2 separate regions of the Homo sapiens genome follow, and region 2 is linked to region 1. Evidence: fine-mapped expression QTL. A gene starts in region 1. The other region holds a variant in brackets. All regions are shown on one strand. Distances are between the middles of the regions. Region 1 holds the start of AOC1 (amine oxidase copper containing 1). Region 2 overlaps LOC105375566 (a long non-coding RNA gene).

What was found. PIP is the estimated chance that this variant, and not a neighbour inherited with it, causes the effect.
Region 2: its variant is fine-mapped to the expression of AOC1 in whole blood (TOPMed, PIP above 0.99).

The regions. Positions count from the first base shown.
Region 1 is chr7:150,842,254-150,858,006 of GRCh38, reverse strand. AOC1 (amine oxidase copper containing 1) reads right to left here and starts at 5,490. Exons shown (of 5, transcript NM_001091.4): 1 at 5,449-5,490; 2 at 1-1,552. The coding sequence starts at 1,536. The region is part of intron 1 of LOC105375567 (a long non-coding RNA gene); the gene reads left to right. RefSeq lists enhancers at 329-1,172, 5,337-5,908.
Region 2 is chr7:150,751,196-150,766,948 of GRCh38, reverse strand. LOC105375566 (a long non-coding RNA gene) reads left to right here. Exons shown (of 4, transcript XR_928163.2): 3 at 973-2,097; 4 at 5,322-5,362. It also overlaps the pseudogene BET1P1. Among named protein-coding and RNA genes, the nearest start is that of GIMAP5, 22 kb to the right of the region's middle. RefSeq lists silencers at 11,206-11,265, 11,306-11,355. The variant C/G (reference allele first, on the strand shown) is at 7,931.

The DNA.
Region 1 (15,753 bases):
GTGAGTGTGTATGTTGCCAATCAGGTGGGTGTGCAGGCGAGTGCCGTGGCGCAGCCCCTCGGGGGTGTAGAAGGTGGCGTGGACGTAGCCAGTGGCATGCATCTTGGCCTCCATCACCCCGTTGGGGTAGAAGATAAAGTCCCAAATGTAATCATAATTGTAGACAGTTGAAGTTGTCCGCAGCACCAGCACCTGGCCCTTCAGCCCCGCATAGAAGTTGAAGCCACCTTTAAAGTTGGAATTAAAGTGCCGCCGAAGGGGCACCCCTGTGGGCATTTCAAAGAGGCAGAGGGCTCGGGGATAATGGACCGGGTCATCGGCATCATAGTAGTGGAAAGTGTCCAGGAAGGTGGCGGTCTCCGGGCAGTCGATGCCGGGGGCTAACTCATGAGTGACGCTGCCCAGGCCCCAGCCGACATCGAGGTACTTGGTCTGCATGCCTGCAGGTGTGTGTCCTCCATACAGCGCCACTGCCTCTTGCACGCTGACCTCATAGGCAATGCGCTCTCCGCCGAAGTGCACGTTCAGGACCTGCAGCCCGGAGGAGGAGCGCAGCCGGAAGGCAAAGCTCCAGCCGCCGTAGAGCACAGCGTTGCCCTCCAGCCTGAAGCGAGGGCCGTGGGGCTGGACCAAGCGGGGGCCGCTCACATGGATGGGGCTGGGGAAGTCCCCGCGGGGCTTGTGGGAGGAGAAGAGGGGCGGCTCCTCTGTGCTGTCATGCCCCTTGCCCCCAGGCAGCGGGTCCTCCAGGACCACCACGTCCACCTCTCCATCTGCATACTTCCGAGCCAGTTCCTCTGGGCTCCCATAGAACTTCCCGTTGTACCACACCTGCTCCACGGCCCAGTGCCCAGCATCTGTGCTCCCATGATCCACGAGGAGCTCCAGCCCAGTGGGGTGCAGAAAGTAGCCTTCTACATAGCGCTGTATGATAAGCCAACTGCGGCGCTGGCCAGAAGCCACACCCCGGGGGGCCACATCGGTGAAGGCCAGGCATCTGTCATGGCAGTCTTGGAATGAGAAGCCTGTGGTATTGAGGAAGAACTGATGCAGGGGCTTGGTGGCTTCCTGCAGGGTGTGGTAGAGGAGGGCATACTCTGCTGTGGAGATGGGCCTCGATGCCCAGGAGGACTGGTACCCAGGCCTGGGGGACAGTGCTCGCATGTAGCAGGGCCCTGGCAGGGGCCCCACAGCAAACTCGGTGACATTGGGATGCTCCTGGTCACCAAAGAAGATGACGGCACGGGCTTCCCGCACAGGATGCCTTTCACCTTTATCCAGAAACCTCAGCACATGGTACTTCTTGGGCAGCAGCATCTCGATGAGAAACACGGTGTTCTTGGCCATGGTGGTGGTACTGGAGGGCTGCAGCCTCAGCTCCTTCTTGGACCAGAGGAAGCTGTGCACTGCCTTCAGCTCTTGGTTGCTTAGGTCTGAAAACACCCCTGCCTTCCTGGGCAGAGTCCCCGGGGAGGGCTCCGCCATGGCCGTCTGCAGCATCAGGATGGCAGCCACGGCCCAGCCCAGGGCCGGCATCTCTCGCTCCACGGCTCTGGAATGCAATAGAGGAGATGAACTTAGTTGTCTTATGGGCAGAGATGGGCTTCCCTCAGGTTAGGGCCATGGAATTTTCCCATGGACTGAGCTTCCTCCCCTTGCCCTGCCCCAAGCTGGAGGCTGTCCTGGGGCAGCTGGGGCCCCATGCATAGTCCCCAGCGCCGTCGGGCCGCTGCCTGTGCATCCATCCATTTATTTCTGCCCTCTCCTCACTCCTCTGTAAATGTCCTTCAGTCCTGCAGCCTTCCTTACTCAGGGGAACACCCTTGTTTTTGTGTATTATCTCAGCCAGGGGTGCCGTGAGTCACAGAGGCCAGGCTGGGCCCCTGCACATGCCCCCAGGTGCTTCTTGTGTCCTGGAGAAGAAGACACCTGTATTAACAGCAAAACTACATTTCTGACACAACGAAATACCTTTTAGGTAGACAGATTTTGAAATTTAGTGTAGAAATTCAAAGGTAGGCTCTAGAGTCAGGCTGTCTGAGTCAAGTCCCAGTGACTCATGCCACTAGGACTTGCTGTGTGGCCTTGGGCACGCTGCTTAAACTCTCTGGGCCTTCATGTTCTTAGTTTTAAAATGAAAATAATGACAACAGTGCTTAGCTCCTAGGGTTGTGGAGAGAAATCAATTAAACAGTAAATATAAAGTGTTTGTAACAATGTCTGCCATATGGGAAATACATGAGAAATGTTAGCTGCTCTTCTTGTTAAATACAGGCTATCGACACCAGCCCATTTAAAGTTTTACGCAATGTAGAGTGATTCAGGTGTGACTAGGCTGCAGACTGATGGCTTTGGGGGTGAGGTAGAGGTGCCCAGTCCTGCCTAGCCTTCTTTGTGCCCCATTCACCTCTCTTGTCCACCCAAGGCTACTAGGAGGGGACCTCAGGGAGGGTTTCATCTTAGGAAGATGCCTTTTCCTTTCTCAGGGAGGGTGGGTCAGGGTCTTCACCTCATAACCCCATTCCCCAAGCAGCTGTAAAATCCTGTGCTTGTAGCTGTGAGCCTCCTGCAGGGCTGGGAGACGTGGTGGCCACAGCTCTGTCTTCCCATGTGCTGTGTGCGGAGTCTCTGGGAGACTGTTACTCTTGCCTGTTGCGCTGTTGCTACAGATGCTGGCTGGAGCTGTCTCCCAGCCTTAGTTTCTCCAGACCCTAACTTGTCCTCCTAGGTGATGTGGGCCTCCCTGGAAGGCTGCCGTCACCGTGAAATTTCCCTACAGAAGCACTGCCTTTGCCACCTTGCACCCCCTTCCTCAAGGCTCTGGGTTGAGCTGGGAGCCCCGCTTCAGGATTCCTCCCTGTCTCAGCTGTGCTTTTCACTTCCTGCAAGCAGTGCCTGAGGCACAGACACTTGATTTATAAGGTGGATGCATGAGTGGGTTGGACTCTGAGAGATCCTTGTTTTCATATTTTCATAGGTAGTTGCCTTTTGCTCCCTAAATCAGAAGCCCTGGGGGTAAACCTGGAGAAAACTCGTTCTCCTGTGCAGACAGACAGGTAGCAGAGAGGGTTAATCCACTCCTGTCTCAGACCTCTGCCTGGCCCAGCCTCTTCCCAGGGGGCCCAGGCTGCCTGCAAGGGAGGCCCCGAGGATTTCACCTGGAAAGTCGGCGGCACAGGGTGTGAGGTGTAACTGAGGTGCAGCAGCTCCACTTTGGGTGTATCGTGGAGTGACCCACTGAGGAAACCTGACCATCATGAGCGCTTTTCATTTCTTGCTTTTGTTTTTGGAAAATGCATTTACACATCACATTTCCGAAGCACAAGCGTTGGGAACACAACCCATGTGTTAACTAGAGGCCCTGTTTTCCCGTGGCTTTTTTCCTCCAGAGAAGCTCAGCTGCACATTGTCCCTTCCCACCCGACTCTGGGCCAGTGTCACATCCTTTGCCACCTTTTGAGGTCAGCTGAAACCCCGCACTGCCGAGGAATGCTGTTTTTGGCCCCAACTAACATACTTCTCCACTAGTCCCCTTAGCACTTTGTATTTAATTTGTACACGATGGGCAGTTCTTGATTCATAGACAAATGAAAGGTGTTGGCTGGGCCTGTTCCATCACCCGAGGGCTCTCTAGCCCTGGAGGCCACGGTAAAGGCTGATCTGAGATGTCCTTCTCTCCCTTTCCCATGCCCCTCTCCCCGAGGGCTCTCCCCTTGCCCTCGTTTTGCTCCATGGTCATGGCCTCTCATGGGGATGTCCCTCTAGTTGCCTTGTCTTGCCCTCTGGTGCTGGCAGAAGACCCTGGAACCCACATGATCTTGGGCTCTCGGAGGCCCTGCTTACCTGGAGGGAGCAGGTGAGGCAGGGGCTGCAGGCGGAACCCAGAGCCAGCAGGAAGGATATGAGGTGAGTTCTTGTGTTCTCCTATTAAATATTGGCCAGGCCTCTTTTTTTTCTTCTTTAAATAGACTATTTTTTCTTTTTCCTGAGACAGTCTTGCTCTGTAGCCCAGGCTGGAGTGCAGTGATGCGATCTTGGCTCACTGCTACCTCTGCCTCCCAGGTTCAAGCAATTCTCCTGCCTCAGCCTCTGGAATAGTTGGGATTACAGGTGTGCACCACCATGCCCGGCTAATTTTTTGTTTTTAGTAGAGATGGTGTTTCACCGTGTTGGTCAGGCTGGTCTTGAATTCCTGACCTCAAGTGGTCCACCTGCCTCAGCCTCCCAAAGTGCTGGGATTACAGGCATGAGCCACCAGGCCTGGCCCCAAATAGACTTCTTATTAGACTTAAATAAATAAATAAATAAATATATATATATATATATATATATATATATATATATAGTCAGGATCTCACTATGTTGCCCAGGCTGGTCTTGAACTCCTGGGCTCAAGTGATCCTCCTGCGTTGGCCTCCCAAAGTGCTGGGATTATAGTAGACTTTTTTTTTAATAGACTTTTAAAAATAGACTTTAATAGATTTCTTAATAGACTTTATAAAGTCTGTTAAAAGTCTTTAAAAAGTCTATTAAAAGTCTTTTAACAAACTTTATAAAGTCTATTAAAGTCTTTTAAATAGGAGTCTTTTAAAGAGGAATTTTAGGTTCATAGCAAAATTGAGCGAAAGGTACTGAGAGTTTCTGTATACTCACAGCCCCTACACACGCAGCCTCCCCACTATCAATATCCACACCAGAGCCATACATTTGTGGCTGATGAACCTGCACATCACTCTCACCCAGAGCCCACAGTTTACATCAGGACTCACTCTTGCTGCTGCATATTCTATGGGTTGGACAAACGGACAATGACATGGATCCACCATTAGAATATCACACAGAATAGTTCCACCTCCCCCAAAATCTTCTGTGCTCCACCTCTTCCTCCGAAACCCTAGCAATCACTGCTCTTTTTATTGTCTCCATAGTTTTGCCTTTTCCAGAACGTCCTGTATTTGGAATCTTACAGTCTGCAGCCTTTTCAGATTGGCTTCTTTTGCTTGGCAGTGTGCATTTAGGGTACCTCCATGTCCTTTCACGGCTGGGTCTCCTTTTTTACAACCTCTTATACCCACGTTTCTTTTTGCTTTTCCAGGAAGGAGAAAGATGTGGAAGAGACCTTTGCTTTCCCCAGGACAAACCTCTGTCCCCATGTGCAGTGGCAGTGGGGGTGGTGGCTGGTGAGACCTCCAGGCAGGAACAGGAAGCAAGCCCTCTCCCTGCTCACCCTCCTCTCTGAGCTTTCCCCACTCCACCCTGGCCGGCTGTTGCCTGCCACCAAGCACCCGGGCACCTTCTGTGATGTGCTGGGCTCCCGCCCTCACTTCCTGGCCCTCCTCCCTCTGTGTCCTGTTTCTTCTGCCCCTCACTCTGTGCCCTCCTTCCACTGCTTTTCTGTCCTCCAGGTCAGCCCCTTCTTGACTCTCCCGAATACCCATCAGAACGCACCTGTGTGCTCTGCTCCCAGTTCGCTCTGCTTCCAGCCTTTGCCCTTAAGCTGATCTCTGACTCCTTCTTGAAGTCAATCAGACCCCGCCCTGCAGGGAGGGACAAGGTGAGGCCTGAGCTGGCCTAGGAGGGGCCTATGGCTTGGGAGGTGCCTCTGTGGGCAGCTACAGTGGCGAGAGTGGGTTTGAGGAAGCTGGCTGTGCAGCACACTTGTCCTGAGTCTGTTTCCAGACAAGTGCCGCCTTCCACAAGAATTTGCCTTGGCTTCTCTGTGACGAGCCATGCAATGCCACGATCTGTTAATTTAGGTGGCATATTTTAGAGGCAGAGATAAGGACAAGGGGCCATTTCCTAGCCGGTAGTCTTACCTGAAGCTGACAGATGGACCAGGGCAGGGGCTGATAGAGGCTGGCACCCACAGCAAAACAGAGAATTCAACCGCTCCTAGAACAAGACACCAGAGGCAGAACCGTTTGGGAGGAGCAGCCACTCAAGACGAGTTGCAAACTTTGGCGGCTTTTTAACGATCTTTGAGACCCTGACCAGATTCAGAAAGGAGGAAGGACTTGGCTGGGAGAAAGCTGGCCAGGGTAGCTAAGGCTATGGCACAGAGCGGAGAGGGGAGAGGACACTGGGGCAGGTAGTGCCCATGCAGTGGGCGGACAGTGCTAACGCCCACTTAGTCAGGTTGAGAAGGGCGAACGTGGTGACCGGGGTAACTCCTAGTTGGAAAGGAAAGAATAGAGTCAGGAAAAGTTCGTGGCTCAGGAGTGCCAAGGGGTCATCATCCCCCATTACCAAGGTTTGGTTGCTCAGGGATTGCACACCGCTTTGTGGTTATAGGGGTTTTGTATTTCTCATCATCATCCTTCCTGCTGCCCGCAATGCAAGCCATTTCAGTGTGCACTGGCAGCTAGATGAAGGAAGGTGAACACACTTAGTCAACTTGAAGCTTGCTTGCAATTCCAGAAGGTCTTTGGTGTTTCTGAGGAAGGGGATTTGCCTTCCATGTTAAAATGATGATTGATACAAAGACAATGAATGCTAACGTCTTTCACCCTCAGTGTTCAAGAGGACTGTGAGTTATGTATTCTCAGTTATGGGCTCACCAACTCCGCAGAGAATTGGGGGGATTTGGATTAGAAGAGAGTTTCAGGAACAACCTGATTTTGAGGACTACAATCTGTTTCCATTCCACAAAGGAAACTGCGACAAAGTTAATGGAGTGAGGATGGATCGAGAAAAGAGACTTGCAAAGATTTAAAGGGAAAGGGGCCACATGCACATGATGGAGTTAGACCCTTTCACACACGGAAACGGACTCGAAAGGGACCAAAGACATACATGTAAGAGCTAAAACTGTAAAACTCTTAAAAAGAAAACATAGGAGTAAATCTGCTTGACTTTACATCTAATTCTTGGATGTGACCTCAAAGCACAAATAACCAAAGAAAAAAAAATAGATAAATTGACATCATCAGTATTAAAAGACTTTTATGCTTCAAAGGACACCCACAGGAAAATGAAAAGACAAAGCATAGAATGGGAGAAAATATTCACAGATTATATATCTGATAAGAAAATTATATCTAGAATGTAAGAAGAACTCTTCCAATTCCATAATAAGAGGCAAATAATCCAATTAAAAATGAGCCAAAGATCTGAATAGATATTCCCCTCACGAAGATACACAAATGGCCAATATGCACATGGAAAGCTGTTCAATGTCATTAGTCATCAGGGGATGCAAATCAAAACCACCAGGAGATACCACTTTATATCCACTAGGATGGCTAGAATTCAAAAGCAAGGTAATAACAGGTGGGGCCAGGAGGCAGAGAAACTGGAAGCCTCACAGGCAGTTCATGGTGAGATGACGCAGCCACTTCGGAAAACTGTCTGGCTGTTCCTCAAATGACTTAACGTTGTTATCATATAACCCAGCAATCCCACTCCTGGGTATATGCTCAAGAGAAAGGAAAGCCTATGTCCATGGGGAAACCTGTACCAGAGTGTTTACTGCAGTGTTATTCACAATAGCCAAACAGTGGAGACGACTCATATGTCTCTGCATTGATAAATGAGTCAACAAAATGTGGTCTATCCACTCAATGGAACATCATTCAGTCATAAAAAGGAAGGAATCACTGTTACATGACACAATGTGGATGAACCTTAAAACCACTACGGCAAATGAAAGAAGCCAGTCACAAAAGACCACATTATTCCATTTATATGAAACGTGTGGGGTAGGTAAATCTCTCAAGCAGATGAGAAGCACATTAGTGGTTGCTTAGGGCTGGGGTGCGATGGAGGGATGGGGTGAGAGCTAATGCTTATGGGGTTTCTTTTTGAGGTGATTAAAAAGTTCTAAAATTGAAGGTGATGGCTGCATGTACCTGTGAATGTACTAAAATGCATTGAATTATACACTTTAAATGGGTGAATTGTAAGGTGTGTCTCAATAAAGCTGTTTTCAAAAAGTGACAGGACTAATATCTAGAATACACAAGGAGCTCTTGCAAATCGGTCAGAAAGAGGCAGCAGTCCCCATGGAAACCTGGTAAAGAATCCCAAGGGTAACTTGCAGAAGAGGCACCCCAAAGGGCTAAAGAGCACATGGAAAGATGCTCAAATGTAGTGGTTACTAGAAAAATGCAAAGCATTCAACAACGAGATATAATTTTTCATGGGAAAGCTGGATGATGCCAAGTGTTGACAGAGATGTGGGGAAACGGGGACCTTATGTGTGGTTGTGGGAAGGGGTTATTGATGGCACAGCCATTCTGGAGGGCACTTTGCAGGGTGTGGGCAAATGAGAGAATTGCATGCTCTCCAGACTCAGGAACTCTGTCTCTTGGAATATATGTCAAAGAGGTTCTCACCCAGGCCTAGAGGTGGGATGCAGACACAAGTGGCTGTGAGGCTGGGGAGCTGGAGGCCATCGGGGTGCCACCCCCAGGAGAGTGGTCACTGCACACCATGGGGTGTTGTGCAGTTGGCGGGTGCAAAGGCATGGATGTCCACACAGCCACTCCTGAGAAGGGATCTCAGGATCATGGAAGACGCAGGATGAGTGATAGCACGATGCCATTACACAACAGGAAACACGTACACACCAAGCCACCCGCTTTCAAGAGTGGATACACATTAGAATGGATGTGAGGGCGGGGGTGGGAGTGGGAATACATACATACACACGTGAGAAAGACAAGAGAGAGGACTTGTATGGGCCAGTGATGACGACATCCATGCACTGAGGTAGAATTAATTCAGTTCTGCAATGGACGTCCATAAATAAATAAAAGAAAGGCCTGGGAGACAGACTGAGTGACTACAGGTCCTCACACCAGGGTAGATGTGGCTGAGGACAGGAACCACCACAGGTCCCGCACCTGGAGGATGCAGTGAGGGCAGGGAGGAACACTGCGTGTAGGCAGGGAGCTGAAGCACACCAGAAAGAATTGCATTTTTTATGTAACGGGGCCCATAACATGTACATAGAAGGATTAATATTACAAGGTGGCACAGAGTAAGTGCAACACATTGATGCCCAAGGGCCTGTCCTGCAAGGGCTTGGAAGGAGATTCCCCTCAAGACTGCAAGCCCCCAAGTCCTGGGACTCTATCCCCTCTGCAGTAGCCTCCATGGCTGCTGTCACAGAGGACCACACACAGGGGCTTAAAGTAACAGAAATGGGTTGTCTCACAGTTCTGGAGGCCTAAAGTGTGAAATCAAGGTGTAGGCAGGGCCATGCTCCCTTTGGAGGCTCAAGAAGAGGGTCCTTCCTCTCCTCTTCCAGCTTCTGTGTTGCCAGCAATCCTTGGTGTCCCTCAGTGCCTTGGCTTGTGGCCATGTCACTCCAATCTCTGTCCTCACATGGCGTCCTCCTTGTCTCAGTACCTCTATTTTCAAGAACACCAGTGATTGTATTGAGGGCCTACCCTACTCCAGTATGACATCATCCTAACTAATTCATCTGCAACGACCCTATTTCCAAATAAGACCATATTCTGAGGTTCCAGGGAGGACATGAATTTTTAGGGGGATGCTATGCAACCCAGCACACCTTCTTTACCTGCCTCATTGCAGAGAGCATGGTCCTTGGCCAGTGAGTGAATTCCAAGCCCTGTGCCCTGGGGGGCTGCTGCCCCGAGGATCCACAAGGTAGAGCCTGTGTGGGGTTTTGCGATACACGAGGGACTTAGGAGGAAGAGGACACACTGGGCAGGGGCGGGGGTGGGAGTGGGAGTGTGAGTGGGGGTAGGAGCAGAGTCCTGAACTGAGATGTGGTGTGTTTCCCAACATGGGAAAAGGTCAGGGCTGATGCGGGGAGTGGGGTGCGGTTTGTGTCGCTGTGCTGAGGAAGGGCAGGTGGTGTGTCTGGAAGGAGGAGGTAGAGTGAGGAACCTCCCTATGCGCTTCTAGAGAAGTGTGGGGGTGAAGAGGGGCTTGTGGGAATCCTATAGAGACAGAGGAGATAGAGAAGCCCTCTAGAGAGGCACTGGGAAAGCTGAGGCGAACAGAATCCTTGTGCAGAAAAGCTGGTAAGTCTGTTGTTATATACATATATATATTTGTAGAGACGGGGTCATGCTGTGTTGCCCACGCTGGTCTTGAACTCCTGGCCTCAAGTGATCCTCCTGCCTTGGCCTCCCAGAGTGCCGGGATTACAGGCATGAGTGACCATGTCTGGCCAAGGCCATTGTTTCTGCTCATGTTTGTGTGCACTGTGGCTGGGGAACTTGAGATGTCACACTTGAAATTTGGGGTCTGTTGCCTTGCCACCTCTCTTCCTGCTCCCTGGCTGGGGCTGGCCCCTCCATACTGAAGGTGACCTTGGTTTCTGAGGTGTGGTTCCTCGCTTGTGGAATTAATGATTGCTGACAGTTAGAGATAGCACTTGGGCAAAGACCGTATCCTGTCAGTTGTTCGCTGCTTGCCTTTCTTAAGGAGGTCCAGGCCTAAGGAGGGGCAGCGCTATATACAAAGGTGGAGCTAGGAAGCCAGAGGTCACAGCTCACCATGTCCTGTGGCTAAATCTTGATATTTTGCTTTCAGAAAGTCACAACCTGTCAGAGCTAATTTGAGAGGATCTAGAGAGTGGGATTGTTTCCACGAAACCACAGAGAAGAAACAGAGCAACCCGCGCCTGCACCAGGACCTACTGGGGGTACACCAGGGAAGCTCATTCGATTAGATCTTTATGTGAATGAAGCCAACATCATAGCTTTTGTCCCTGATTAGGGAAGGTGGGTTTGTAAAAAAGAAAATTCCACCATTTTCTGAGGCAGGGCCATTGGTCATAAGGGGCCCTGGTGAGGTCCTGATGGCTTGGGCAGCCCCACCCAGAGAGGGGAGAACGTTCATCTCCAGGTGCTAGCCCTGCTTCTGCCACTGGCTGGTGGGCTTATACTTGACAGTCCTTAATTCATTCAACAAATGTTTATGGAGCACTCATTCTGCACCAGGGAGACACAGCAACGAACAAACAAAACCAAAGCCTCTATGGGGCTCATATTTTAGTGAAGACTATCCAACAGCGAAGCTTGTGAGCCTTCACAGCAGACCTCCTCACTGGGACAGCTGATGACAGGGGCTGGCCCTGGGCTGGCATCTGGGAACTTAACTTTCAGGATCCTGCCCCGCTGTGCCGGCCTGCTGACTGTTTTTACAGACAATGTGATTAGTGAACACCTGCTTTCCTATTGGGAATCTGGAATCTTGTTAGTTGTGGTGGGCAGAGAGTGTGCCTACGTGACCAGCCCCAACCTCTGCCCCAGCTCTGAGCTTCTACTTCCCTGGGGAGATGCAGGGCGCAGGGTATGCTCTGTGCAGCCTTCATGGGAGGGAGAGCTCAGCGAGTCTGTGCCCTGACCCCTCCAGACCCCGCTGTGTCCTTGCTGTGTGTTGGCCGTGGGTATAACTGTCTGCTTAGTCTGGTGAGTCCTAGTGAAGCTCTGACAGCAGAGGTGCCATGAGGTGTCACGGGTGTTCAGAGAGGTGTCCTGCAGGCGTTGGCGGCAAGTGGTGACCCAGTGTGTTCCAGTGGGGCACATGCTCAGGGGAAAACAGAGCAGGGGCATGTGGTGGGGGCAGGGCCTGACCTTTCAGAAAGGGGACTCCTCTTCTCCTCAATGTGGTGAAGGAGTGGGCCACAAGGATGCCTGGTGGCGGGGGCATTTCAGGCTGAAGGAGCAAGGAATGCAAAGTCCCTGATGCAGAGTGAGGGGACTGCTGTCGCCAGGGGCAAGTGGTGGCAGGTGGATTCAGAGAGTGACCAAACGCCCTCGCCTCCAAGGCTGTCACTGGGATTTTACTCTGAGCCACTTGGGAAGCCTCTGTCAGGTTCGTGCAGAGGCCAAAACTGACCTGCCTCTAGCAAGTGCTATCTGGAGGTGCTGGGGGAGACAGAATGCAAAAGAGTGAAGGCTGCAATGATGGCAGGAGCAGAGAGCAGGCCGGGGGGTGGTTGCAATAGTCTTGGGGGGCAAGGCTGGTTGCCAGGTCAGGGTTGCAGGGGTGGAAGTGATGAGAAGTGGCCACATTCTGGATGTAGCTGGAAGGGAGGCTGGGGGAGATTTGCTGAGGGCTGGGATATGAGACTCCAGAGAGAAGAGCCAGGTGACCCCAAGTTCGGGCAGAGGTTCTGCTCTGCTGGGGCAGCCAGGAGCTGAGTCAGGATGCTTCAGTGTGTGAGCATGGCTGGCTGCTGGCTGAGCCCACTTCTGGACTTTGATGCTGGATCCCAAGGCACATGAGGGGCAAGGGTGGAGGGAGCCCCAAGGAGACCTTTGTGAGGAGTCAGAGACCAGGGCTGGGTCCTCCAGGCGCTCTTTGTATCTTCACTGACCATGCCTGGCAGTGCTGGCCAGCTGACAGCTTCCCCGTCAAATCCCACATTCCTCCCTCCAGCTGCAGCTGTGTCTGGCAGCCGGGGCTGGGCAGTAGACACAGCAGAATTCTTCCTTCCTCCTGGCTCTCTTTAGTAGCTACCTCACGAAATGTGCATTGGATTCTTAAAGAAGAAAAAAATCAAGAGGCCAGAAAATCAGGAAGCAGAAGTTAAAATATGTTGCTGATCTTTGAAATAAAGAATTTGTGTTGGTAGACATGTGACCTTGTGTGGTGCAGGGATGTATTTGTGTTAAACCATTTTGGTGACTATGACATTCCAGGTGCATATTGGAGGTAGCATGTAGGACTTCAGAAATCACCAGAACAGTCACTGCCTCTGTGCAGCCCTTTGCTGAGCACAATTTTGGAAGGAAATATAGCAGCATGGTTACTGGTACAGGATATAGAGCCAGAAGGCCTGAGTTTGAATCCAGGTTCTACTTCTTTTAGTTGGATGTTATGTGGGAAAAGCGGTTAACTTTTCCTTTTAGAGACGGTGATTTTCTCTGGTGGTATGATTTGATTTCTTGCTTTTTAATTTTTGTGCATCTGTTGTATGTTTTTTGATTTGAGATTACCACAGGGCTTGCAAATACTCTTACAATCTATTAAGTTGATAACAACTTAACACTACTTGCATAAACAAGCAAACTAAAAAGCAAAAAGAACACTAATAAAGACTTTCTCTTTATCTTTGTTCCCCTACTTTTTGTTCTTTTTTTTTTTTGTTTGAGACAGCATCTCACTCTGTATCTAGGCTGAAGTGAGGTGCATGGCGTGATCTCAGCTCACTGCCACCTCCGCCTCTGGGGCTCAAGCGATCCTCCCACTTCAGCCCCCAAAGTAGCCGGGACCACAGATGTGAGCCACCATGCCAGTTAATTTTTGTATATTTTGTAGAGATGGGGTTTCGCCATGTCATCCAGGCTGGTCTTGAATTCCTGAGCTCAAGCAATCTGCCTACCTCTGGCCTCCCAAAGTGCTTGGATTACAGGGGTGCCCTGTGGGATTATAGGCAGAAGCCACCATGTGAGGCCTTCCCCCACTTTTTAACTCTTGATGTTTCCATTTATATCTTACCGTACTGTCTATGTTTTGAAAAGTTGTTATGATTTTTGATTGGTTCATATTTTGGTCTTTCTACTTAAAAGTAGTTTACACACCACAGTTACAGTGTTGTATTCTGTGTTTTTCTGTGTACTTACTAATACCCGTGAGTTTTGTATCTTTAGATAATTTCTTATTGCTCATTAACATCCTTTTCTTTCTGATTGAAGTACTCCCTTTAGCATTTTTTTGTAGGACAGGTCTGGTGTTGATGAAATTCCTCAGCTTTTGTTTGTCTGGGAAAGTATTTCTCCTTCATGTTTGAAGGATATTTTCACCAGATATATAATTCTAGAGTAAAAGTTTTTTCCTTCAGCACCTTAAATATGTCATGCCACTATCTCCTGGCTTGTAAGATTTCCACTAAAAAGTCTGCTGCCAAATGTATTGGACCTCCATTGTATGTTACTTGTTTTTTTTTTTTTTTTCTCTTGCTGCTTTTAGGATCATTTTTAAAAAAAATCCTTGCCCTTTGGGAGTGTGATTATTAAGTGCCTTGAAGTGGTCTTCTTTGGGTTCAATCTGCTTGGTGTTCTATAACCTTCTTGTACTCAGATCTTGATACTTTTCTCTAGTTTTGGGAAGTTCTCTGTTACTATCCCTTTGAATAAACTGTCTACCCCATCTCTTTCTCAACCTCCTCTTTAAGGCCAACAACTCTTAGATCTGCCCTTTTGAGGCTATTTTCTAGATCCTGTAGGTGTGCTTCATTAAAAAAAAATTTTTTTTGTCTCTTCTGGCGATATAATTTCAAATAGCCTGTCTATTCTCACTAATTCTTTCTTCTGCTTGAGCAGTTCTGCTATTAAGAGACTCTGACGCATTCTTCAGTATGTCAATTGAAATTTTCAACTCCAGAATTTCTGTTTGATTCTTTTCAATTATTTCAATCTCTGTTAAATTTTCTGACAGGATTCTGAATTCCTTCTCTGTGTTATCTTGAATTTCTTTGAGTATCTTCAAAACAGCTATTTTGAATTCTCTGTCTGAAAGGTCAGATATCTCTGTTTCTCCAGGTTGGTCCCTGGTGCCTTATTTAGTTCATTTGATGAGGTCTTGTTTTCCTGGATGGCTTTGATGCTTGTGGATGTTCGTCAGTGTTCGAGCATTAAAAAGTTAGGTATTTATTGCCATGTTTGCAGTCTGAGTTTGTTTGAGCCTGTCCTCCTTGGGAACAGTTTCCAGGTATTCAAAAGGACTTGGGTGCTATGATCTAAGCTGTATCTGCTTTAGTGGGCACCCCTAGCCCAGTAGCACCGTGGTTCTTGCACACTTGTAGAGGTATCACGTTGGTGGTCTTTGATAAGGTCCAGAAGAATTCTCCGGATTACCAAGCAGAGACTCTTTTTTCTTCCCTTACTTTCTCCCAAACAAATGGAGTCTCTCTCTCTGTGTTGAGCTGTCTGGAGCCAGGGGTAGAGTAACACAAGCACCCCTGTGGCCACCGCCACTGGGACTGTGCTGGGTCGGATATGGAGTATCAGCACAACACTGGGTCTTGCCCAAGGCCTGCTGTAACCACTACCTGGCTACTGCCTATTTGCTCAAGGCCCTAGGGCTCTACAATCAGCAAAGGTGGTGACGCCAGCCAGGCTTACATCCTTCCCTTCAGGTTGGTGAGGTCCCCTAGGTCCTGAGTGGGTCCAGGGATGCCATCTGGAGCCATGGATGGGAATCTAAAATCTTAGAAGTCTACCTGTTGTTCTATTCTACTGCAGCTGAGCTGGAACTCAAACCACAGGATGCAGTCCTTCTCATTCTTACATCCCATTCTCACAGGCAGAGGAGCCTCACCAGGCCCGTGGGGAGTACTGCCAGGCTACCACTGATGCTCAGTTAAGGACCAAAGGAACTTCAGTCAGCTTGTGGTGAATGTTGCCAGGCATAGGAACTCATCCTTCAAGACAATGGGCTCCCTTGGCCCATGGTGTGTCCAGAAATGTTGTCTGGGAGCTAGGGCCTGGAATGGGGGCCTCACAGCCTTTATCAGTGCCCTAACATACTGTGGCTGAGCTGGTATCCAAAATGCGAGACAAAATCCTCTTTACTCTTCCCTCTCCTCAAGCAGAAGGAAGGGGTCTCTTTTGGAGCTGTGTGCTGTGCTGCCTGGGGTTGGGGAAGGAGTGGTGCAAACACTTCCTTAGACACCACAGTTGGTGTCTCATGTGCCCCACCAGTTCACTAACTCCAAGCCCAGCTCAGCACTAGGTCTTGCCTAGGAATTGCAGTCCTTGTTGCGTAGACTGCTCCTCAAGTTCACTTAGGGTCCCAAAGCACTGCAGCCAATGGGGGTGAGGCTTG
Region 2 (15,753 bases), 91 kb after region 1:
AATCAAGACAAGTTTAATGTGACTAGACTTATTTTGTAAAAAAATTAGTCTTACTGTGATTATGTTTGGTAAAAGTGGGAGTGACTGTGGAGAGAAAAATTATATTAACAAAAACTATAGTGTACCCGTTATTGGATTCTAGTACTGTTCATTGTCTTTGAAGTTTTGTTATCTATATGTAGAATGGATTAGATATTAAACTCTAATTTCCTCCCATATCCGGCAACAAATCTTCAGGCTAATGCTTCATGTTTTTCTCCTACTCTCTTGACTTGACATCACTGAAAACTGAAGCTGCCCTTTTCCTGAAATTTTGCAAGCTGAAACTGGATGACTTGATATAAACTTCAGAGAACTCACTACCACAACTAATATATAAGCAACCTTTGTGCCTGTTGCTGTGTAGGCCACTCAGAAAGTCCACTGGAACACCCAATGACCTCACCAGAGACATTCAAACTGCAAATCAGGAAATTGATCAGAATTACCACTGCTTATCTTCACTCTCTATCTAAAGATGCTTTGAGCCCAACCTATAGTACCCTTTACCAACTGATTGCCCTCTGGACTCAAAAGCTGGGCTTATAACTTGCCCTAAACATTAACCTTTATTTTTCTTTTGTTTCCATAGAAATGCCTCTTATTGGGCTGGGCGCGGTGGCTCACGCCTGTAATCCCAGCACTTTGGGAGGCCGAGGCGGGCGGATCACGAGGTCAGGAGATCGAGACCATCCTCGCTAACACAGTGAAACCCCGTCTCTACTAAAAAACACAAAAAAATTAGCCTGGCGTGGTGGCGGGCGCCTGTAGTCCCAGCTACGCGGGAGGCTGAGGCAGGAGAATGGCGTGAACCCGGGAGGCGGAGCTTGCAGTGAGCCGAGATCGCGCCACTGCACTCCAGCCTGGGCGACAGAGCGAGACTCCATCTCAAAAAAAAAAAAAAAAAAAAAAAAAAAAAAAAAAAAAAAAAAGAAATGCCTCTTATTGTTTACATTATGAAGTCTCAACTTGGATGGAAGCCCAACTGCAACACGGCCTCCTAAAATGAGACGCAACTGTTCAACTGAACTGTTCTCAGGACTAAAAGGCTGTGTCAATAAGATACGGGGAATATTTGTTCTTCTGTGTGTTCCGATCCTTGTTTTTCTTTCCCTTCGTTGATCTCTTGTTTCACAACTTCCAACCCAAATCTGCTCACAGCTACTAACTTGGCTTTTAACATATGAAACTTTCTAAAAGTAAAGTTTCAAATGGGGAATGAAGAGGCTCAGAATACACTACCCCAAAACATGTCACTCAGAACACATCATCCCCAAATATGCCACTTTGGCATCAGAATTATTTTAAACTAAAGGCACATAAAAACAGGAGATGCAAGAAGATCACTCTGACCTTCACTGTTCTTTAAAAGCCAGAGATGAAATTCCCATGTGAAAGGTGTTCTCCCTAAACCAAGAAGAAAGTAACATTCTCATCACAAAGGATAGGAAGTTGAGGCTGATAGGAATCTATACAAGCATCCCTTATGTTCCTAATTACTTATTTACCCAGTTATTTACCCTAGCATAAGCCCCTTTGCCTTGTTACATTTTCACAATTCAGGGCATAAATGTTTGACTCTAGCTGCTGCTTTGTGTCTTCATTTCCTTATGAATGCTCTCCTGCCATTAAAAAACTTGCATTAAATAATTTATATACTTTTCTCCTGTTGATTTGTCTTATGTCTATTTAATTCTCCAGGCCCAGGCAACAAACAAACAAACAAGAAAACAAAACAAAAACAAAAAACCCCCAACAACAACAACAACAAAACCATAAAAGAGGAGGGGCAAATTTTTGCCTCCTCTTCTGCATTTTTCACATGCTTTATCCTGTTTTCACTTCTTTACTTTCTGGCACTATAAGGTGTTCCAGGCTCATCTTATATTTATTTTCCCTATCCTAGCCCTGGAATCAGCCACTTCTACACTTCTTGAAGGAGTCCTGGTTCCTTTCATCAGGGAACGGCATTTCGAAATCAAGATCTGAGTGCTGGCTGTGCTCATTGCTACTGGTGTCACTGCTCATAGTCTCCTCTCTCTCAGTGGGCAGAGCTAGGTAATTCATGTATGTATAACTGACCCATATATGCACACATATTATATTTTTGTATCTACTAAAAATAAATCAACCATGAGTTCATACTGATATTTCTAACTCCAGTCCAGCACCAGGATTTATTCTAGCATTATCTCTGCTTATTTGTAACTTCTTTCTGACAATGAGAAAAGTGGATCCCATAGCTTACACTATATTTAATTATTTTTGAGCCCAAGTATACCATAGGTTTAGGGTTGTTTGTGAAAAACGAATTTACCAATGAGAGTTTGTTGCTTCTGTACTGTTCTTCTTGTCTTTGGCCTGACACTCTCCAGTCAAAACATTGCTTTACAAAGGCACTTAGGTCAGCTCGTTTCTTCCCTCCTAACTTCCGTATGGTTATGTTTTTTTATTTGTAATACGGTTAGATTCATTTTAGCAGTCCGCTTTTCATCTTGGATTTCCCCAAGATCTCAGTTGATTTTTTAAAAATTTGTATACAGCAAAGTTTACCCTTTGTGGTGTATAGGTTTATGGGATTGAGAAAGGCATAGAGTCACGTGTACAACAAGACAGTTTAACTCAGAACAATTGGACTGCCCAAAAGTTTCCTAATGAGGCCCTTTAGTGGGGCATCATTTCATAGGACTCCCCCAACTCCAGGCAACCACGGATTTGTTTTCTATTTTTATAATTTTGCTTTTTCCAGAATGCCATATAAATAGAATCATTCAGTATGTAACATTTTGGATTTTCTCTCATTTAGCAAAAAGAATTTCAGATTCATTCATGTGTTGTGGGTTGATACTTTTTATTGCTGAATGGTATCCCATTGTCTGGATATACACAGACTTACTTACCCTTTCATCTGTGAAAGACAGCTGAACTATTTCTAGCTTTGGTAATGAATAAAGCTGCTATAAACATTCAGGGCCAGGCACAGTGGCTCACGCTTATAATCCCAGTACTTTGGGAGGCTGAGGCAAGAGGATCAACTGATGTCAGGGGTTCAAGACCAGCCTGGCAAACATGGCAAAATCCTTTCTCCACTAAACATACAAAAATTCACCTGGCGTGGTGGTGCATGCCTGTAATCCCAGCTACTCGGGAGGCTGAGGCAGGAGAATCACTTGAACCCAGGAGGCGGAGGTTGCAGTGAGCTGAAATAGCATCACTGCACTCCAGCCTGTGAGACTCCATCTCAAAAAAAAAAAAAAAAATCAGGTACAGGTTTTTCTGTCAGCATAAGGTTTCAGTTAACTTAGGTCAATACCTTGGAGTGGGATTGTTGGGTCACATGGTAAGTGCATGTTTAACTTTATAAGAAATTGCAAAACTATTTTCCATTTATAAGAAACTGCTATACTGCCATTCCCCAATGAAAGGAACCAGGACTCCTTAAAGAAGTGTACTTTTGGTGCAAAAGTAATCAGAGTTTTTGCCATTGAAGGTGATGGCATGAGTCAGGATTTCCTTATTTTAAAAGGCTGAATAATATTCCATTGTATGAATATATCATGTTTGTTTATTCATTCATGTGTCAATGGACACTTGGGTTGCTCCCACCTTTTGGCTATTGTGAATAACGCAGCTATGGACACAGTGTACAAATATGTGTTCAAGTCTCTGCTTTCACTTCTTTTGGGTGTATACCCAGAAGTGGAATTGCTGGATCACAGGTAATTATGTTTAATTTTTTTGAGGAATCATCATATCGTTTCCACAGCAGCTGCACCATTTTACACTCCCACCAGCAATGCACAAGAGCTCCAATTTCTCTCACATCCTTGCTGACACTTGCTATTTTTTTTTATTTTTTTGTGTGTGCATGTGTGTTGATAATACCAACCTAATGGGTGTGAAGTGATATTTCATTGTGGTTTTGATTTGCATTTTGTTAATAGCTAGTGATATTGAATATCTTTCATGTGCTTATTGGTCATTTGAATATCTTCTTTGGAGAGAAGTTTATCTTGATAAACCATTTTTTGAGGTTTATTAATTTTTTTAACTTTTATTTTAGATACAGGAGGTACATGTGCAGGTTCGTTACATGGGTATATTGCATGATGCTGAGATTTAGGGTATGGATCCCATCACCTTGGTAGTGAGGATAGTACCCATTAATTTTGTTAACCTTTTCAAGGATCCAGTTTTGAGATTCTATTATTTTTCTCTACTATTTTTTTCTGTTTTTAATTTCATAACTTTGTTCTTATCTTTTCTCCCCTTTCTGCTTGCTTTGGGTTTACGTTACTCTTCTTTCTCTAGTTTATTAAGGTGAATGCAGCAATTAATTTTTTGAGGTTTTTCTTCTTTTCTGGTATAAGCATTTAATGTTATAATTTTTCCTTTAAGCTCTCCTTTAGCTTTCTTCCATAAATTTTGATTTGCTGGCATTTTATATCAACTTATTTAAACATATTTTTAAAATTTGCCTTGAAGTTCTCCTTGAAGAGGTCCTTCACATCCCTTGTAAGTTGGATTCCTAGGTATTTTATTCTCTTTGAAGCAATTGTGAATGGAAGTTCACTCATGATTTGGCTCACTGTTTGTCTGTTATTGGTGTATAAGAATGCTTGTGATTTTTGCACATTGATTTTGTATCCTGAGACTTTGCTGAAGTTGCTTATCAGCTTAAAGAGATTTTGGGCTGAGACGATGGGGTTTTCTAAATGTACAATCATGTCATCTGCAAACAGGGACAATTTGACTTCCTCTTTTCCTAATTGAATACCCTTTATTTCTTTCTCCTGCCTGATTGCCCTGGCCAGAACTTCCAACACTATGTTGAATAAGAGTGGTGAGAGAGGGAGAGAGGGCATCCCTATCTTGTGCCAGTTTTCAAAGGGAATGCTTCCAGTTTTTGCCCATTCAGTATGATATTGGCTGTGGGTTTGTCATAAATAGCTCTTATTATTTTGAGATACATCTCATCAATACCAAATTTATTGAGAGTTTTTAGCATGAAGGTGTTGAATTTTGTCAAAGGCCTTTTCTGCATCTATTGAGACAATCATGTGGTTTTTGTCTTTGGTTCTGTTTATATGGTGGATTATGTTTATTGATTTGAGTATGTTGAACCAGCCTTGCATTCCAGGGATGAAGCCCACTGGATCATGGTGGATAAGCTCTTTGATGTGCTGCTGGATTCAGTTTGCCAGTTTTACTGAGGATTTTTGCATCGATGTTCATCAGGGATATTGGTCTAAAATTCTCTTTTTTTGTTGTGTCTCTGCCAGGCTTTGGTACTCAATGAAATAAAAGAGGGCACAAACAAATGCTCATGGATAGGAAGAATCAGTATCATGAAAGTGGCCATACTGCCCAAGGTAATTTATAGATTCAATGCCATCTCCATCAAGCTACCAATGACTTTCTTCACAGAATTGGAAAAAACTACTTTAAAGTTCATATGGAACCGAAAAAGAGGCCGCATTGCCAAGTCAATCCTAAGCCAAAAGAACAAAGCTGGAGGCACCACGCTACCTGACTTCAAACTATACTACAAGGCTACAGTAACCAAAACAGCATGGTACTTGTACAAAGCAGAGATATAGACCAATGGAACAGAACAGAGTCCTCACAAATAATATCACATCTACAACCATCTGATCTTTGACAAACCTGACAAAAACAAGCAATGGGGAAAGGATTCCCTATTTAATAAATGGTGCTGGGAAAACTGGCTAGCCATATGTAGAAAGCTGAAACTGGATCCCTTCCTTACACCTTATACAAAAATTAATTCAAGATGGATTAAAGACTTACATGTTAGACCTAAAACCATAAAAACCCTAGAAGAAAACCTAGGCAATACCATTCAGTACATAGGCATGGGCAAGGATTTCATGTCTAAAACACCAAAAGCAATGGCAACAGAAGCCAAAATTGACAAATGGGGTCTAATTAAACTAAAGAGCTTCTGCACAGCAAAAGAAACTACCATCAGAGTGAACAGGCAACCTATAGAATGGGAGAAAATTTTTGCAATCTACTCATCTGACAAAGGGCTAATATCCAGAATCTACAAAGAACTCAAACAAATTTACAAGAAAAAAACAAACAACCCCATCAAAAAGTGGGTGAAGGATATGAACAGACACTTCTCAAAAGAAGACATTTATGCAGCTGACAGACACATAAAAAAATGCTCATCATCACTGGTCATCAGAGAAATGCATATCAAAACCACAATGAGATACCATCTCACACCAGTTAGAAAGGCGATCATTAAAAAGTCAGGAAACAACAGGTGCTGGAGAGGATGTGGAGAAATAGGAACACTTTTACACTGTTGGTGGGACTGTAAACTAGTTCAACCATTGTGGAAGACAGTGTGGTGATTCCTCAGGGATCTAGAACTAGAAATACCATTTGACCCAGTCATCCCATTACTGGTTATATACCCAAAGGATTATAAAGCATGCTACTATAAAGACACATGCACACGTATGTTTATCGCGGCACTATTCACAACAGCAAACACTTGGAACCAACCGGAATGTTCATCTATGATAGACTGGATTAAGAAAATGTGGCACATATACACCATGGAATACTATGCAGCCATAAAAAAGGATGCGTTCATGTCCTTTGCAGGGACATGGATGATGCTGGAAACCATCATTCTCAGCAAACTATCGCAAAGACAAAAAACCAAACACTGCATGTTCTCACTCATAGGTGGGAATTGAACAATGAGAACAGTTGGACACAGGAAGGGGAACATCACACACCAGGGCCTGTTGTGGGGTGGGAGGAGGGGAGAGGGATAGCATTAGGAGATATACCTAATGTAAATGACGAGTTAATGGGTGTAGCACACCAACATGGCACATGTATACATATATAACAAACCTGCACGTTGTGCACACGTACCCTAGAACTTAAAGTATAATAAAATGAAATTTGCCTTGAGGTTTCTTGTACCCAAGGGTTATTTTCAAGTATGTGTTTAATTTTCAAATCTTTGGACAATTTCTAGATTCTTTCTGTTATTTATTTTGAATTTAATTCCATTTTGGTGTAAAAATATACTTTATGTAATTTCTATTGTTTTAGATTTGTTAAGGTTTGTTTCATGGCTCAGAATATGGTCTATTTTGGTGAATGCTCCATGTGCATTTGAGAAGAATGTGTGTTCTGTTGTTGATCGAAGTATGCTATAGGTCAAGTGTCAATAGGTCAATAGTGTCATTAGGTCAATAGTGTCAATAGGTCAAATTGGTTGATAGTGGTCAAGTCATCTACATACTTAATGATCTTCTAGCTACTTGTTCTATCCATTACTGAGAGAGATGTGTTAAAATCTCCAACTGTAATGTAGATATTCATCTATATCAGCTTTTGGTTCTTTCAATTTTTCTTTAAGAGTTTTGAAGCTCTTTTGTTAAGTTCATATACATTTAGGATTGTTATGTTACTTTGGTAAATTGGCATTTTTATCATTATGTAGTATTTCTTTTTACCTTTGATAATACTCTTTGTTCTGAAGTTTTAAAAAATTTTTATTTATTTTTATTTTTTATTTTTTTAAAATTTCACCTTTTTCTTCATCATTCAACTTGATAAAGCTTCTTTTTTTTTTAACATGAATATAGCTATTCCAGCTTTCTTTTGGATATTGTTTGATGGTATACATTTTTAATATTCTTTTATTTGTAACATATTTATGTCTTTGTTTTTAAAGTGACTTTTTCTTAAGGCAGCATATACATAGGTCTTGTTTTTAAATCATATCTGGAAATTTCTGTCTTTTAATTGGTATATTTTGATCATTCACATTTCGTGTTATTATATAACTGAATTAAAATCTACCATTTTCTTAGCTATTTTTTATTTAATCCAT[C/G]TGTCCTTTATTTTTTCCTGCCTTCTCTTGAGGTAATTGAGCATTTACTGGAATTATGATTCTATTTCATCTCCTCTATTGACTTATTATTTGTTCACCCTTTAAAAAAAGTTTAGTCCTTGGTACAGGAGTTATATGTTTTTAATTAATTAGAGTGTATCATTAAATAACATTGTATATATTCACAGATAGTTTAAGGCCTCAAATTATCATAGTCCCACTTCTCTGCTATTACATATATTATACATATTATATACAATTATTAGCCTATAGATCTCTATATTATTAGATATTAATATCTGTATTCTATCATCTATCTATCTATCTATGAATCTATCTATCTATCTATCTATCTATCTATCTATCTATCTATCTATCTATCTATCCATCCATCCTGGGAATTAACTGAGAGATACAGATAAGCCAAAGCAGGCTTAAAACAAAACAAGGGCCGGGTGCGGTGGATCATGTCTGTAATCCCAGCACTTTGGGAGGCCAAGGCGGGCAGATCACGAGGTCAGGAGATCAAGATCATCCTGGCCAACATGGTGAAACCCCGTCTCCACTAAAAATACAAAAATTAGCTGGGTGTGGTGGCGCCTACCTACTCGGGAGGCTGAGGCAGGAGAATTGCTTGAACCTGGGAGGCAGAGGTTGCAGTGAGCCAAGATAGTGCCACTGCACTCCAGCCTGGTGACAGAGCGAGACTCCGTCTCAAAAACAAAACAACAAACAAACAAACAAAAAACAAAAAGTAGCTAGATAAAGAAAATATTGTTAGGTGAATCATGAAAAATAAAAGCATTTATTACGAACCATAAAAGTCGTACAGAGTAGCAGTATAAAAGATGATCTACATCTTGGGTTAATATAAGGCTTTTGTTATATAAGACTCACTTCACACCTTCATATTATTCATATAATTTTAATCTAATGACAACTTAGTTATCTTGGCTGTCTCTCCAATGTGTTGTATAATAAGTTCTTATAGGGTAAGGAGTTTACCGTGTGCAAGTGACCCTTGTTCTTCCCTCCTACCCCTCTCCTCCCTGTTTTCCTCTTCCCCTCTTTCCCACTCTCTCCTCTTCTCATCCCTTCTCAACTCCTCTCTCCCTATCCCACCTTCTTTTACTCACTCTTTCCTCATCTTATCTTCTTTAATCTCCCCCTTTTTAAAATTAATAGGTTTTGTTTTAAAAAGCAGTTTGAGGTTTACAGAAAAATGGGAATGATAAATACTGAGAGTTCCCCTATACTCCTCACCGTCTGCCCTAGCAATTCCCCCTATTAGTAACATCTTGCATTAGTGTGATACATTTGTTGTAATTGATGGGCCAATATTGATAAATTATTATTAATTAAAGTTCATAGTTTACATTAAGATTCAGCCTTGGTGTTGTATATTCTATGGACTTTGATGAATGTGTAGTGACATGTATCTACCATTATAGTATCACACAGAATAGTTTCACTACCCTAACAATTCCCTATATTCCACCTATCCATCTCTCCCTCCATCACCTGGAACCGCCAGCAACCACTGATTGGTTTACTGTCTCCATCATTTTGCCTTTTACAGAATACCATTTAGTTGGAATCATACAGTATATAGCCTTTTCAGATTGGCTTAGTTCACTTAGCAATATGCATGTAAGTTTTCTTTATGCTTTCTCATGACTTGTTAGCCCAGTTACTTTTTGAATGAATAAGATTCCATGGTCTAGATGTGCTACACTTTATTTATCCATCCACCTATTGAAAGATATCTTGGTTGTTTCTAAGTTTTGACAATTATGAATAAAGCTGCTATAAACCTTTGTGTGCAGATTTTTGTGTGGACATAAGTAATATATTTTTAAATAATGGGACAAAAAAGGAGAGCTTTCTAAGAATGACAGCGCCATAAAGAAAACATTTGTTCAAATTTCCAGACAGCAAAAAACTCACCATAGCAAACTTAAGAGACAAACAGCAGGGGGTGGTATTTGCAAGATATGTGACCACAGTTGACAGTTCTATTTTACTTAGCACACTGTGAACTTAAAGGAGATAAGATTCTCAAACTCTTTGACTATTTTATTTTATTACCTGCATGTCTGTGGTAGGAGAGAGACATATCAGTGATTCCCTTTAGATTTGTCCAAAAAATCTTATAAGAATTTAGTCCTGTTAGGAATTACCAGATTTCTATTTACATCTCACTGTTAGGAAAACACATTTTGAAATGAAACCACCATAATTCTACAGACTTTTAGAGAGGGAAAGTTATAACTGTTATTATATGAAAAGTGAACATTACAATATTAATATGAGAGAATATTTTGGAAGTCAAATCTGGCTTTCATTGCAAAGTGCGAACTGTATATGTTATCTGCGTTAGAACCGCCCTCCTCTCCAAACTAAATCAAAGAATCAGGAGTCACCTGTATCTCACTCTCTGGCTTATAATTTCTTTAAAAACTGAATCCATCTAAATGCAAATGTGCAAGTAACTGATCAAGCTCTGCCTCATTCACCTGAGAAAGTCCCCAGAGAGGAGCTCTGCCCACTCCCCCTGCACCCACCACCACAACACAGAGGCTCCCAGCATGACCGGGGCCACCCTCTTCCCTTCTCCCGAGCCCCTTGTTAACTTGTCAAGGGCTTGTCACTTTGGCTAAATCACATCATGAATGGGGTCAGATGTCTTCCTGGTCCCTGCGGAAATGAAATCCTCCTGGGTGGGGAAATCTCCTAAGCCTTGCCTCCCCCTCAGGTCAGAGCACAGGTAACCTGAGGGCAGGGCATTTGGCAGAAGTAAGAGGGAGCCATAAAATGTTTCAAGAAAGATGCCTGCTCCTTGTGCAGTGGAACCTGGAGAGTGCCCTTGGGTTCAGTCCTCACTGCCATCTAGAATTCAATATAGGAAACTCTCTTGGCCAGGCTCATGCCTATAATCCCAGCACTTTGGGAGGCTGAAGCAGGTGTATCACTTGAGCTCAGGAGTTCAAGACTAGCCTGGGCAACATAGGGAGACCCCATTTCTCAAAAAAAAAAACAACAAAAATAAGAAACTCTCTTTATGGCGCACTGCAGATGGTGGCTGGGAGATGTGTATATGTCCAGCCTGGGCCAGTAACAGGCAGCTGTTGGCCTTCCCTGGGATGCAGCCATATTCAGATGTTTAGTGGCTTTTCCGGGTCTCAGTGCTCCTGCTAATTCTGGTAAAAAGTTTGTTTTGCACAAAAGCATCACAGAGGTGTGGTGGGAAAAAGGAAGCAGAGCTGTTTTACAAACAGCTTCTTACCCTGGCTGTCTCTCAGGGCCTTGAGTCACCCTCTGAGGGCGGCTTTGTACGGAAACCCACACACATTGTTATTTTCCTGTCCCCAGGGATATGGTCCCTCTCTCTCTCTCTCTCTCTCTCTCTAGCAGACCAAATTTGTGGCCAGGTTCATCATGTCTCATTGCTCTTGTGTTTTTATAAAGAGCCTATAAGACAGTGAGAGAGACTGCCTAGGAGAGGGAGGGTTGCTCCTAGGCCATCTGTAGACCTTGCAAGAAATTCCAGGACCTGGCAGATAACAAGGCTTGTTTTGTTTTCTTTCATTTTCTCTTCTCTCCCCCACCCCGACCCCCCAGTTCTACCAGTAACAGTCTGTGCCAGCGTGGACAAGACACTTGATCTTTCTAAACCTCAGTTTCTTTATTCCTGAATTAGGAGAAAAAATCATATACCCTAAAGTCCCAGATATGTGCTAACTGAAAATATGACTGATATTATATTTTTAAGAACCTAAAGTCTGGAATAGAATGAGCTCAGATGGTACCCCTATGGTGATACTGATGAGCTCATTTCTTGTGTTTGTGCAAGAGCATTTTCATATATGCACATAGTGGCTGCTGCACCCTCTATGTGGGTACACATATGGCTTCCCCACAAATTGCAGGGCAAGGAAAGATCACCTGAACATCCTTCCCCCACCCTGGTCTTCCACAGAAGGTAGGGGATAGTCTTTGAAGGACAGGCTGAAAATTCATCTTTTGATTTCAATCTCATTTTATTCCCATTGCCTTTTGTTGTTGACTATACCACTCCACTTGATGGAAGTAGTTTCCATCTTAAAGAGGGGAGAAAGATTTCAGGAATAGGACTCAAGATGATCTGCAGTTATATATATATATATATATATATATATATTATATATATATGTATATATAATATATATAAATATATAATATATAAATATATATATAACTGTATGTATATATATACAGTTACGTTTATGTATATATTTTTCAAAGCAGTTTTAGAGTTACAGAAAAATGGGAATGAAAAATACTGAGAGTTCCCCTATACTCCTCACCTTTTGCCCCAATAATTTTCCCTGTTAGTAAATTCTTGGCTTAGTGTGGTTTATATATATATATAGAAGTAGTTAAAACTCCACTGTCCACAAGAATGAAGTCATAGATGGCAAGGGCTTTATTACTAGGCAGTTACCCTGACTCATAACCCTCTAACTGGCAGATCCTCACAACTGCACGTTATGTTTTTCTAATCAGCATGCCATTTATCTTTTGGAAACTCCAGTGAGGGAAGTAGAGAGAATATTATTGCTACTTTTGGCAAATGAGAGTAAGATAATCTGTCCAAGGTCAACCACTAGTTTCAGAGCATTTCACAGTTTTTCCAGTGGGGGTCTCCACCTTCCCCTTCTCCACCATGTCCCTCATAGTGGAGGGAACCATTCTTTACTCTCATTAGCTTAGAGATGATGCTCTCCCAGTTTGAGGCATGAGCTGCTCCCCTTCCTTCCTTCCTTCCTTCCTTCCTTCCTTCCTTCCTTCCTTCCTTCCTTCCTTCCTTCCTTTCCTTCCCTCCTTCCTTCCTTCCTTCCTTTCTTTTTCTTTCTTTCTTTTTGAGACAGGGTCTCACTCTGTCACCCAGGCTGGAGTGCAGTGACACAATCATGACTCACTGCAACTTTGGCCTCCTGGGTTCAAGTGATCCTCCTACATCAGCCTCCTTAGTCGCTGAGACTATAGGCATGAACCACTGTGCCAGGCTAATTTTTTTTTTTTTTTTTGGTAGAGATGGGGTTTTACCATGTGGCCAGGGCTGGTCTTGAACTCCTGGGCTCAGGTGATCCTCCAGTCTCGGCCTCCCTCCTAAAGTGCTGGGATTACAGGCATTAGCCACTGTGCCTGGACAGGTTAAACTGGTCCAACCATATTCCATGTGTGAGACATTTAATACCATTTTAAAATGAATTAATGGAAGGATTGATGGATATAAGATGAGTGAGGTGAGTTGATGGCCAGCCCAGAATAGGCTTTTTTTTTTTTTTTTTGGAGGGGAGCGATGATAGTGCTGTCCAGAGGGCTGGTGTGGCACTTGGGTGGGGTTCTCTGTAGTGGTGGTTTGGGCTAGAGGGATAGCACTGTGACTGGAGAGGAAAAACTCCTCAATAAAATAATTGAGGCAAATGAGAACAATCCTGATGTTTCTGAGAAGCACCCTTTTCACTTCTCTTTCTGTTCAGGCTGGATTCCGAGACAGTAGCAATTTCAGGTTCTCCTTCTCGGAGGAAATGGCCCGCCACCAATCTCTTGGCCAAACACAGCACGTGAATAGCTTTGCTGCATGTTTTCCCGGAGGGCTGATCCCTCTCAGCACACAGGGGCAGCCACAGATTCAGGCCCTACAGGCACTCAGTTTGCCCTGAAACACCTGAAAAAGCTGCCTTCTCCCTTTAATATCCTTTCACCCCCTCAATCTCGGGTGCAGACTTGGCCTCATGTCACTGCTGCTTTAGGAAACCCTGGAAATCTTAGTTCCCTGGTAGTTAAAAGGGGTAGATGGTATTACAAGACCGCCAAGTTTGCCAGGTCCCTGGCCTCCCCCAGTGTAGGAATATCCGCTTCCAAGTCCACCTACCCCTCTGCAGCTCTTTCAGCATCGCCTTATCTTCTCCTCACACACCTTTCCAGGCACCTACCAGTGCCACCTGTTTTCCTCTGATGCTCAGGAGCCCCTCCTTACCGGCTCCTGTGGAGACCACCGTTCAAGACAATCCAGGGGCAGCACATGAGAAAACAGAGAGTCTTGAGTTCTAAACCATCAGCATTGCAGCAAGATGGAGTGAAAAAATGGTTGGTTTTCCCATTTGCCTTCCCCCTCATGCAATCACATCTTTAAAAAATGTCCACCCCAATATCATTCTTGAAAAGAAAAGAATCATCCTTGGAAAGATGAGTTTTTTTTTTTTTTTTTTTTTGAGACAGAGTCTCACTGTGTCACCCAGGCTGGAGTGCAGTGGTGCAATCTCGGCTCACTGCAAACTCCGCCTCCTGGGTTCAAGCGATTCTCCCACCTCAGCCTCCTGAGTAGCTGGGATTACAGGCATGCGCCACCATACCTGGGTAATTTTTGTATTTTTAGTAGAGAAAGGGTTTCACCATGTTGGCCAGGCTGGTCTCGATCTCCTGTCTTCAGGTGATCCACCCACCTCGGCCTCCCAAAATGCTGGGATTACAGGCATGAGCCACTGCGCCTGGCCAAAAAGATGAGATTTATGTTCAGGTTTGCTCTTTCTCTGAGTATCAGTAGCAATAATCAGTTTTGACTATTGGCCAGGTTTCTCCAGGGAAACAGAATATATCTATTAAGAGATATATATCTATTAAGAGATTTATATCTAGAAATTGGCTCATGTGATTTCGGGGTCTGGTATGTCCAAAATCTGTAGTACAGGTGGGCAGGCTGGACACTCAGCCAGGAGTAGACACTGCAGTCTTGAGGTGGAATTCCTTTTCTGGGAAATCGGTTATTGTCTTAAGACTTTCAACTGCCTGGATGATTTCCCTCTATGTTCTGGAAGGTAATTGTTACTTCACATTAACCACATCTGCAAAATACCCTCACAGCAACACCTGGATTAGTGTTTGGTTAGATCATTGGGTACTATGGCCTTGCTAAGTGACACATAAGAATGACCATCACACTCAGTTTGAAGGGCCCTCTCACGGATTGCAGGATGACAGAAAGTGCTTTGGTTTCTATCCAAAACATCAGCACTTGCTTGGGTGTAAAAGCAAGGCTTGAGTTGTGTCACCAGAGCTGTGGGTGGATAACTCTTATTTGAATTGTGCGTACTGTGGGACAGACTTTGCAACCAGATTAGATTAGCTTCCTTGGGACCTGGCTAAAGAACAGAGAGATTCTAGGAGGCAGTACTGGTGCTAAAAATATCCTCAGAGCCACTTACAAAGAAATTACTAAATAGTTACCTCATAGAAAGTGAGTTTTGACATTTAGTACTTACATGAAAATGTTTCCAAAATTATTTATTTATTAATTTATTTTCCCTGCTAAAGTAATCACTGGCCAATTTAACTGTGTCTCTGTTGGGGGGCAGGGAGCTAGATACCATCTTATGTAGCATGATCCCAAGGAACATTAGAAAATCCATTTATTCCAAAAACTTTTTTCTTCATAAAAATATTTTATTTGAAAATTTATTTTTGGAGCCTATAAACGGGTAAATTCCAAAATAGTAGTAATACAGAGTTTTAAAGAATATTTTAATGTTCCTTTTTATTCGAGTCTGCCTTTGTGTTTTTCTTTCCATAAACAAATACACTGGATTAAAGCAACAATACTCTTATATTCAAGTTCAGTGCTTGAGTTTCTTGAATACTATTTCCATTTAGAGTTTAGTAATTACTTAACTTCACATTATTCTGTCACAAATGATAATATATATATAGTCCTACCGATATAGTAAAAATCATAAAACTATTATAAGCCAAGTCAACAGAATTTATAAAGTTAATATAAA